Homo sapiens: one gene and its partner. The protein of the gene in region 2 interacts with the protein of the main gene of each other region in a biochemical or structural test. Each region holds a gene or a part of one and is shown on either strand. Other genes may lie near its edges. The genes, in order: ERCC6L2 and NEK6.

Region 1 (3,819 bases), about 28 Mb from region 2:
GTTTTCTAACCCTCTGAAAAACACACCGTCTGAGCAAAGGCTCTGAAACTTTAGTGGGCCTTGGAATTACCTGAAGCATCTGTTAAAACACAGATTGCCATCCTCTCCTACTCCCACCGAGTTCACAATTCAGTATGTCTGCAGTGAGACCCCGGAATTTACAATCCTAACAAGTTCCCAGGTGACACTAATGCTGCTGACCCAAATATCCACTTTAGAGAACCACTACTCCATGGTAAGCACCCACTCACCTCTTTTCCTATCACTGAGTTGTCTGATTACCAAAGGTCAGGTTCCCAAACCTGTATACTCCAGTGAAATTGTTTATTGTACTTAAACTAGCTAATTATCACGTAAATGTACAAAAGGGATTCATTTTCAAGTTACCTGTTGAATTAGATGTGAAAATTCTGTGAAATATTGGGAGATAGTCATAAAAATCTTGGATTTTGTATTAAAATTTCCTCAAGTATCTTTAATTTTTCAGTCCCACTAAAACCAAAAATAGTAGGTGATGAACTGCATGGTGTTGAACATATCAAGGGCACAATGGACATGAGGAAATCTAGGAGTGATAGACATGTTCATCGTCTTGGCTGTGATGATCTTTTCTTGGATATGTGTATGTGGGATAAAATGTATTAATGTCTGCTATTTTAAAATGCAACAAAAGATGGATGGATATTACAAAACCATGTATAATGAAATATTAACAGAATCTAAGTGGTGAGAATATGGCTTTTCATTGTACCATTCTTTTAACTCTTCTATGTTTTAGAAAAATGTCAGAAGGTATCGGGAAAAATTAGTTCATAATCTTTGACAAAAAAAAATCTGCAACCTGCTTATAAGATAGTAGTTATTATGTGACTCCATTTTTTGCATATGTATGTTTGTGTGTGTGTTTACAGAAGTACATGTATATGTGGGCATATCATTATGTATGTTGCATATTTATCTGTGCCCTCTTCACCAGATCTGTCCTTCCAATTCACCTTAAAAATACTCAAGTCTTTCCTACCCCCAAACAATACAAAACAAACAAAAAAGAAACCCCCTCAAATTCTCGTCTCTCTCTTCACCTACTACTAGGTCACTTTTATTCCCTTTCGAAGCCATATTTCTTAAAGAGGTAAATATACGTTCTTTCTATGTCCACGTCTTCACCTACTCCATTATGGCTTGTGTCTGAAAGCTCCAGCAAAATGGCTCTTGCTCAGCATACCAATGATTTCTATGTCACTAGAACAAATGGACATTTTTCAATTCTCATCCCCTGTAGAGTGTAAAATATTAAATTCACCTACTTTTAAATTTGAAATGAGGGAAGGAAACTTTATTTGGTATGTAAAACAAGCTTTAAAAAGACTTCAGTTTCATATCATGGCCAAATTAGAATATAAAAAGGGGGAAACTAAAGGGATGAAATCAAGAAACAGGAAAAAAAAAAAAGAAGAAAAGAAGATAAAACTATAGCTCAAACAGTAAATGTCAATGGTCTATTTTCATTATCAATTAATTTTACTACATTCTGAAATTTTAGTTAACACAGTAATCATTCACATTTCTTCAACTGGCTTAGTCATATCTATAGAAGCTTTATCTATCTATAGAAGCTCTACCTTAAATGGGTCTTTCAAACCACCTATCTATGTAGAAATTATTCCCTGAGTTACAACAACAGTAACCAGAGAACTAGGTCCCCAAGCATCAGACAAATCCATCTGAGTATCAAAATTAGTGCAGAAACCATTTCCTAATCTTCAGACGGTACTCCCTCAAAGACTTGCACAGCACACTAACAGCATGTACCAGAACATCTCCAAGTCCTTCAATGATTACAGTGTATCAGGAATAGAAAATTCTGCAGTAAAATCAGCTCCTTTAAAAATAATCCTATGAACTGTAAAATAAAGTAAATTTCTTTGTAACATGGGCCTCAGAGATGAAAGACAGCCTTCAAATTTGAGACTAAAATGTGCGCAAGAATTTGAATTCGAATTGTATTTAAGCTGCAGGATGGTGGTTCCCAAACAGATCACTTTTTGTATGTAGTACCCTCATGTTTCTTCTTTTTTTGTATGTGAGACAGAGTCTCACTCTGTTGCCAGACTGGAGTGCAGTGGCACAATCTCGACTTACTGCAACCTCTGCCTCCCAGGTTCAAGAGATTCTCCTGCCTTGGCTTCCCAAGTAGCTGGGACTACAGGCGTGGGCCACCATGCCCAGCTAATTTTTGTATTTTTGTAGAGATGGGGTTTCACCATGTTGGCCAGGATGGTCTTGATCTCTTGACCTCGTGATCCGCCCGCCTTGGCCTCCCAAAGTGCTGGGATTACAGGTGTGAACCACCAAACCCAGCCTCATGTTTATTTTGAAGTTGAACATGCACTGGCTAATCAAAGAATTGTGGTAACAAACATTCTACCACAGGCAAAAACAGTAGAAGTATATGCGAAAACAGTTACAGCAGGGCTTTAATTAATTTATTAATTTTCCTCTAGTACTCATCTGTAATCTTGGTCACAGATGGCGTTACTGAAACACCACGGGTTCGGTCTAAGACCTGCTGCTCACCATACAGCCAGCCAATCACTGAGACAACACGTATTGCCAAGGAAAAATGCTTTAATCAGGCACTGTAGCCAAGGATCAGTCTCAAATCCATCTCCCTGATTAAAATTAGGAGTTTTTACAGCAGAGAAGAAATGTAACAATGTATGGGAAAACAGGAAGTTGGGAGGGCTAAGGAAGTAATCTGATGAATGAGAGGCCTGGTGTCTCACTGTCTGAATTCTACGATCTGGTGAGTTTCAGTTCTTTGATACTTTTTGAGAGGCCTGGGGGTCCTTTCCTGAGGAAGGAACTCAGATAAAACAAATACAAGTTTAAAGCTTTAGGACCAGAAGGGTCAATTTCTATGTTTATCCAAAAACAAGCAAACAAACAAACAAAACTGTCTGTGGGACTGTTGGGTCAGTTTCAGAGGTAATTTCTTGAAGGCTCCTTTCTTTATTCTTGCTGTCTATCCTCCACCTACAGGCCGGCATGCTAAATGATAGTTTGTGGAATAAACGAAGAAGGTAAATTCATTTATTCCACAAACAATCATTTAGCACGTCCAGTGTGCATGTCTAAACTATCTGCACTGCCTAGGCTTGAAGGAACATAGAGTATGGTTAATGGTAATATGATTATTAAAAGACTTTATTTTAGCCTAGTTTTTCACACCAGACCTTTACACACAGTAGCATTATTTGGCTATTTTTTTTTTCTTTTCTTTTTCCTTATTCCATCATTGGTGTCTGAAATTTGGCTATTTATAAATGTTAAATTTAGTTTTCCACTTAAACCTTTGAGTTCCAATAACTAATGGAGGTAATATGAAGAAGAAAATAAGTTAAACTCAATTATAAGAAAGGAAGCAGAATAACTTAATCACAAACTAGGCACACACTCCTGAAAATCTAAAGTGATCGTTTAGTATAAAATCTAGATTCAAAACTCTATTCTTCTTGGATCACAAACCTCTTTGAAAATCTAAGGAAAGCTAAAGACCCTGTAGCAGGCAGCTTCTGACAGGACTCCCAATAATACCCACCTCTTCATATTCCCAGTCCTGTTTAATCTCCTTCCCTTGAGTTCTGGCTGGACTTAGCAACTTGCTTCTAATGAGAAGAATGTGACAAAAGTGAAGGGATGTCTCTTGTGTTATTACATCACCAAAGACTATGACTTCTGTTTTACTAGTGCTGTCTCTTGCCCTCCTACTTGCTCTCCTTTTATGAAGCAAGCTACCTTGTGTGAGATGCCCCATGA
Region 2 (3,819 bases):
TTTTAGTAGCGACGAGGTTTCACCATATTGGCCAGGCTGGTCTCAAACTCCTGACCTCAAGTGATCTGACTGCCTCGGCTTCCCAAAGTGCTGAGATCACAGGCGGGAGCCACCACGCCTGGCCAACGAAAAAACAAAATGTTTTTTGAACTCTTTTTTCTCCGTCTTTAACTCATCTTTTCAGTGAGTTCAGTGGCTACAGAGTAACGAAGTGAGGGCGGCTCTGGGAGGGGTGGAGCCACCCTGGGCTCCCTGGGGCTCTGTATAGAATCACAGAGCCCCACGCCTGCCCTGCCTGCCCACAGTGGGCCCCAAGAGGCAGTCCCACCTGTCCCCTCACCATGCCACCTGGCATGGACTGTGTCTGTCCCCTCGAAAGCTGCATAATCGCATATCCCCAGCACACAGCCCAGGGCCAGGCAGTTTGCTCAAGGAAGAAGAAGGAAGGGGTTTGCGCCTCAGCGCCAGGCTAAGCCCTGGGAGACCCAGCAGGGCCGTGACCTCGAGTACCTGATGGGGTCACCCCCAACTAGACTTGCTCTCCCAGCCCCCAAGAGGCAGCACGGGCCCTGCATGGGCCTGGGTGTGACCAGCCGCCCTTCCTGCCCTGTCACCCGTGGCTGCCTGTCACCGAGACTGTCCTGTCACTACAGCCGAGGAGCCAGGCCTGCCCGCCCGCTCTCCCAGCCCCGTGATTTGTCTTGCAGCTGCTGCCGTTGCTCGGAGCGAGACACTTGCTTGTAGCTTGTGAGCTGTGTATAGGCAAATCTTTCATTTTTCCTGCATTACGCCGGCGTGTACTGTCACTTAATTTTTATGTATGCAATCCTTCCTGACAAATATGATCTGCTGCCTGGTAATTCGTCTGACGCTCATTCTGTTCCGCGCTCTAATTACGGCTCCTATTTCTGACACCGAGGCAGCCACTCTGCCACCGCTGGGTACCGCACCTGTCAGCCCGACCATGGCACTGACTAATGCCCTTTCATGCCAGCCTCGTGTTAGCAAATACAGAGGCGGGGAGGGGGCCCAGGGAGGGGGGAAGTGGGAGGAGACCAGATTTGCATAAGCCCAGCTCTTGGGTCAGCAGCCTTAGGAGATGAGGTGGTTGCTGGGGCAACGTGGCTGCCACCACAGCATCCCCACATAGTAGGTGCACATGAGATGCGGCAGATGCATAATTCATCCCCACGCACAGGGCGTGAAGTGTCCCTGGCCCCTGTGCCCCTCCTGAGTCACGATGCAATGGTAATTAGTTCAATCTCTTGCCCAACCAAACGTGTGTGCAAGACTTAGCTGTTTGCAGAACCTCTTGGTGGAAGGGGTCTTTCCCCTGGGTCTTGGAGATACAGGTCCTGGGCTTTAGCTTGGCACTGTCACCATTCTAGAACCTGGTGGGTGCAGGCCCTTGGTTCTGGGAGCTTGTCCTGCTGGCAGGGACTTGCTCAGCTCCGTGCAGGCCTCAGCTCATTGGGCATCTCTCCTGGATGCCGGGCACAGAGCCCGGAGTGGGGACAGGCCCCAGGAGGGCTCCTTCCACCCATCATGTGGCCTGGTCGGCGCTCGGAGGGCTTGGGAAGAGCCCGGCTTATGAGGGCGGCCTTCTCCCAAGTTCCAATTCCTTCTCATTAATATAATAAGTGCACCAGTCCAAGTCAATAAAATCATACTGTCGGATGAGACGCATCTCTGCCCATTCCTAATGATGCGATCCTAACCCTCTCTGACGGAGCGCCACAGTCTTTTTTCTGCAGTGGGACAGAGAAAGGCTCGGTGCTGACTGACGGGGGACAGGACGCAGCGGTTCTAACTCTTCTCTTTGACAGCTTCCCTTGAATTTCCTGGTCTTTTCGAAGCCCTTCAACCACACAGGTAAACAGTCCCAAACTGACCGAAACACTTGGTTTTTCACAAGGGAAGTAAATGTTTGAGGGGACAAGGAAAGACGAGGCTTCCTTCCAGCAACGGAGAGTCAGTGGCCCGGGTCCCCAAAGGGGGACTCCAACGGTATCTGCCGAGGCCCCCGGCCCTCGTTTCCTGGAAGCAGCGTGGGTTCTGAAGGAGAGGCCTGCTGCCATGTGACCTCGGAAAAATCTCTCGAGCGCCTGGATTTCTGATTCTTCCTCTGCTAAAGGGAAGGATGGCTGGATGCTTGGGGCTGTCAAGGGCATGAGTGGAACGTCCCATACTCCCTGGGGGGTGGGTCCCTACACATCTTCCCTTTGGAGCTAAAGGAAGAGCTCCTGAGGCCTGGCCAGGTGGGGACAAGAGTTTCAAAACAACCCCCTCCCCGCCAGCCCCGCTGGCTCCATCAGCTGCTGGGAGTCGCTGGTCTCTAGGCTCGTACATTTCTCCTAAGTGTGTGTGACGCGCTGAGAGTCTCTCTGGAACCTGTATGAACAGTGACACTTTCCACAAGACACTGTGACTTCCAGAAAGTGCCTCCGCCCAGACAATGCTGCTGTCTCTCACACCCCGCTTGCCGCAGGCACTCGGGGGTCTGGGGATAGGAGACGTCCTGGCTTGAGCCATGGAGTGGGGTGGAAATGAGCTGGAATGGGGCGGTGTTCAAGGAGGCGGCGGGCAGCTCCTGGGGCCCAGCCCCCTCCTGGGGAAGCGGATGCTGGTGGGCACAGCACACAGGGGGTGGGCCTGGGGGCACCTTCCACTGCAAACACACCTCAAAGAGCCAGGAAATAGCCCTGAGAAAGCAGGGGCCCTCGCCCACTCCATGGGCCTCTGGGAAATGTTCCCACAGATGGGCGTGGTGAAACCCAGACAGCCTTGTAGTAACGCACAGGAGACCCTGCTCCTGTGTTCCACTGGTGGGGAAGCGGGGGCTTTCTTGGTTCCTTTGTTCTCACTAAATGAAAAATCCCCCATCGTACAGCATTCCAAGTTTCACATTTGGTTACATACCCAGTGTGTGGATACTGAAGCTTGCCATTGCTTCACCTGTCCCCAAAACACATCTGACCAAGTCTCTTCCGGAGTCCAGCCCTTCAGCACCCCCCGACCCATAGGGTGGTGTCCAGCCCACTGAGCTCAGAGTTCAAGGCCCTGCCCGCTTTTCATGCCACTCCTGCAAGGACCCTGGTCTGTGGCAAAGCCAAGCTCAGCCGCACACCGAGGCTCACCCACTGTTTCCTGGAACGCTGCTCCCTCCCCTTCCCTGTCCCAACAGCATCTGGTCTCCCTTTATGGTCCAGCTACAATGTCACCTCCTCCCTGGCAGGCACCTGGTCCCCACAGCCTCAAAACCGCCAGTTTAAAAGCCAGAAACTAGGAACAGTGCAAATGTCCACCCCCTAGGAGGGATGGACCAAGGGTGCTGCCCGTGAACGGGACACTCACAGCAGTGGGAAGATGACCGCCCTGTGCCACAGACACGCCCCCTGCTCCAAGCAACCGGCTCAGTCAGCTTCTCCCGCAAGGGCTGGGAGGTGATCAGGGGGTGTGGGAAGCCCCAGCTGGGCTCCTCTGGCCACAGCTGATTCCCTTCTGGGTCACTATTCTGAACAGATGAGAAAACCCTGGGGCTTAAAAAAGGCATCTTCCTGCACTAACTGACCAAACACACGTGGGGAGAATGTTTGCGTCTCCCTGCATGGTCACCAGGACCGCTGGGGGCTGCTGGGGCACAGACAGGTCCCCCTTACCTAGGGAGTGGGCTGCGGTGGTCTCAGAGCTGAAGAAGCGGCCCAGACCAAGGTCACCGAGCTTCACGACGCCCGTGGCTGTGATGAACACGTTGGCAGGCTTGATGTCTGCAGGGCGAGGAGAAGGAGATTGGTGTGGGGTAGGAGGCTTGGGGTAGGT

The links.
Region 1: the proteins of NEK6 (region 2) and ERCC6L2 form a complex in vitro, tested with the Homo sapiens proteins (one study listed by BioGRID).

What each region holds. Positions count from the first base shown.
Region 1 is NC_000009.12:95,882,123-95,885,941, reverse strand, and holds part of ERCC6L2 (DNA excision repair protein ERCC-6-like 2), read right to left. Parts: intron 1-3,819. UniProt on the Homo sapiens protein: Promotes double-strand break (DSB) end-joining and facilitates programmed recombination by controlling how DNA ends are joined in a spatially oriented manner during repair.
Region 2 is NC_000009.12:124,327,286-124,331,104, reverse strand, and holds part of NEK6 (serine/threonine-protein kinase Nek6), read right to left. Parts: intron 3,768-3,819; coding exon 3,660-3,767; intron 1-3,659. UniProt on the Homo sapiens protein: Protein kinase which plays an important role in mitotic cell cycle progression. Required for chromosome segregation at metaphase-anaphase transition, robust mitotic spindle formation and cytokinesis.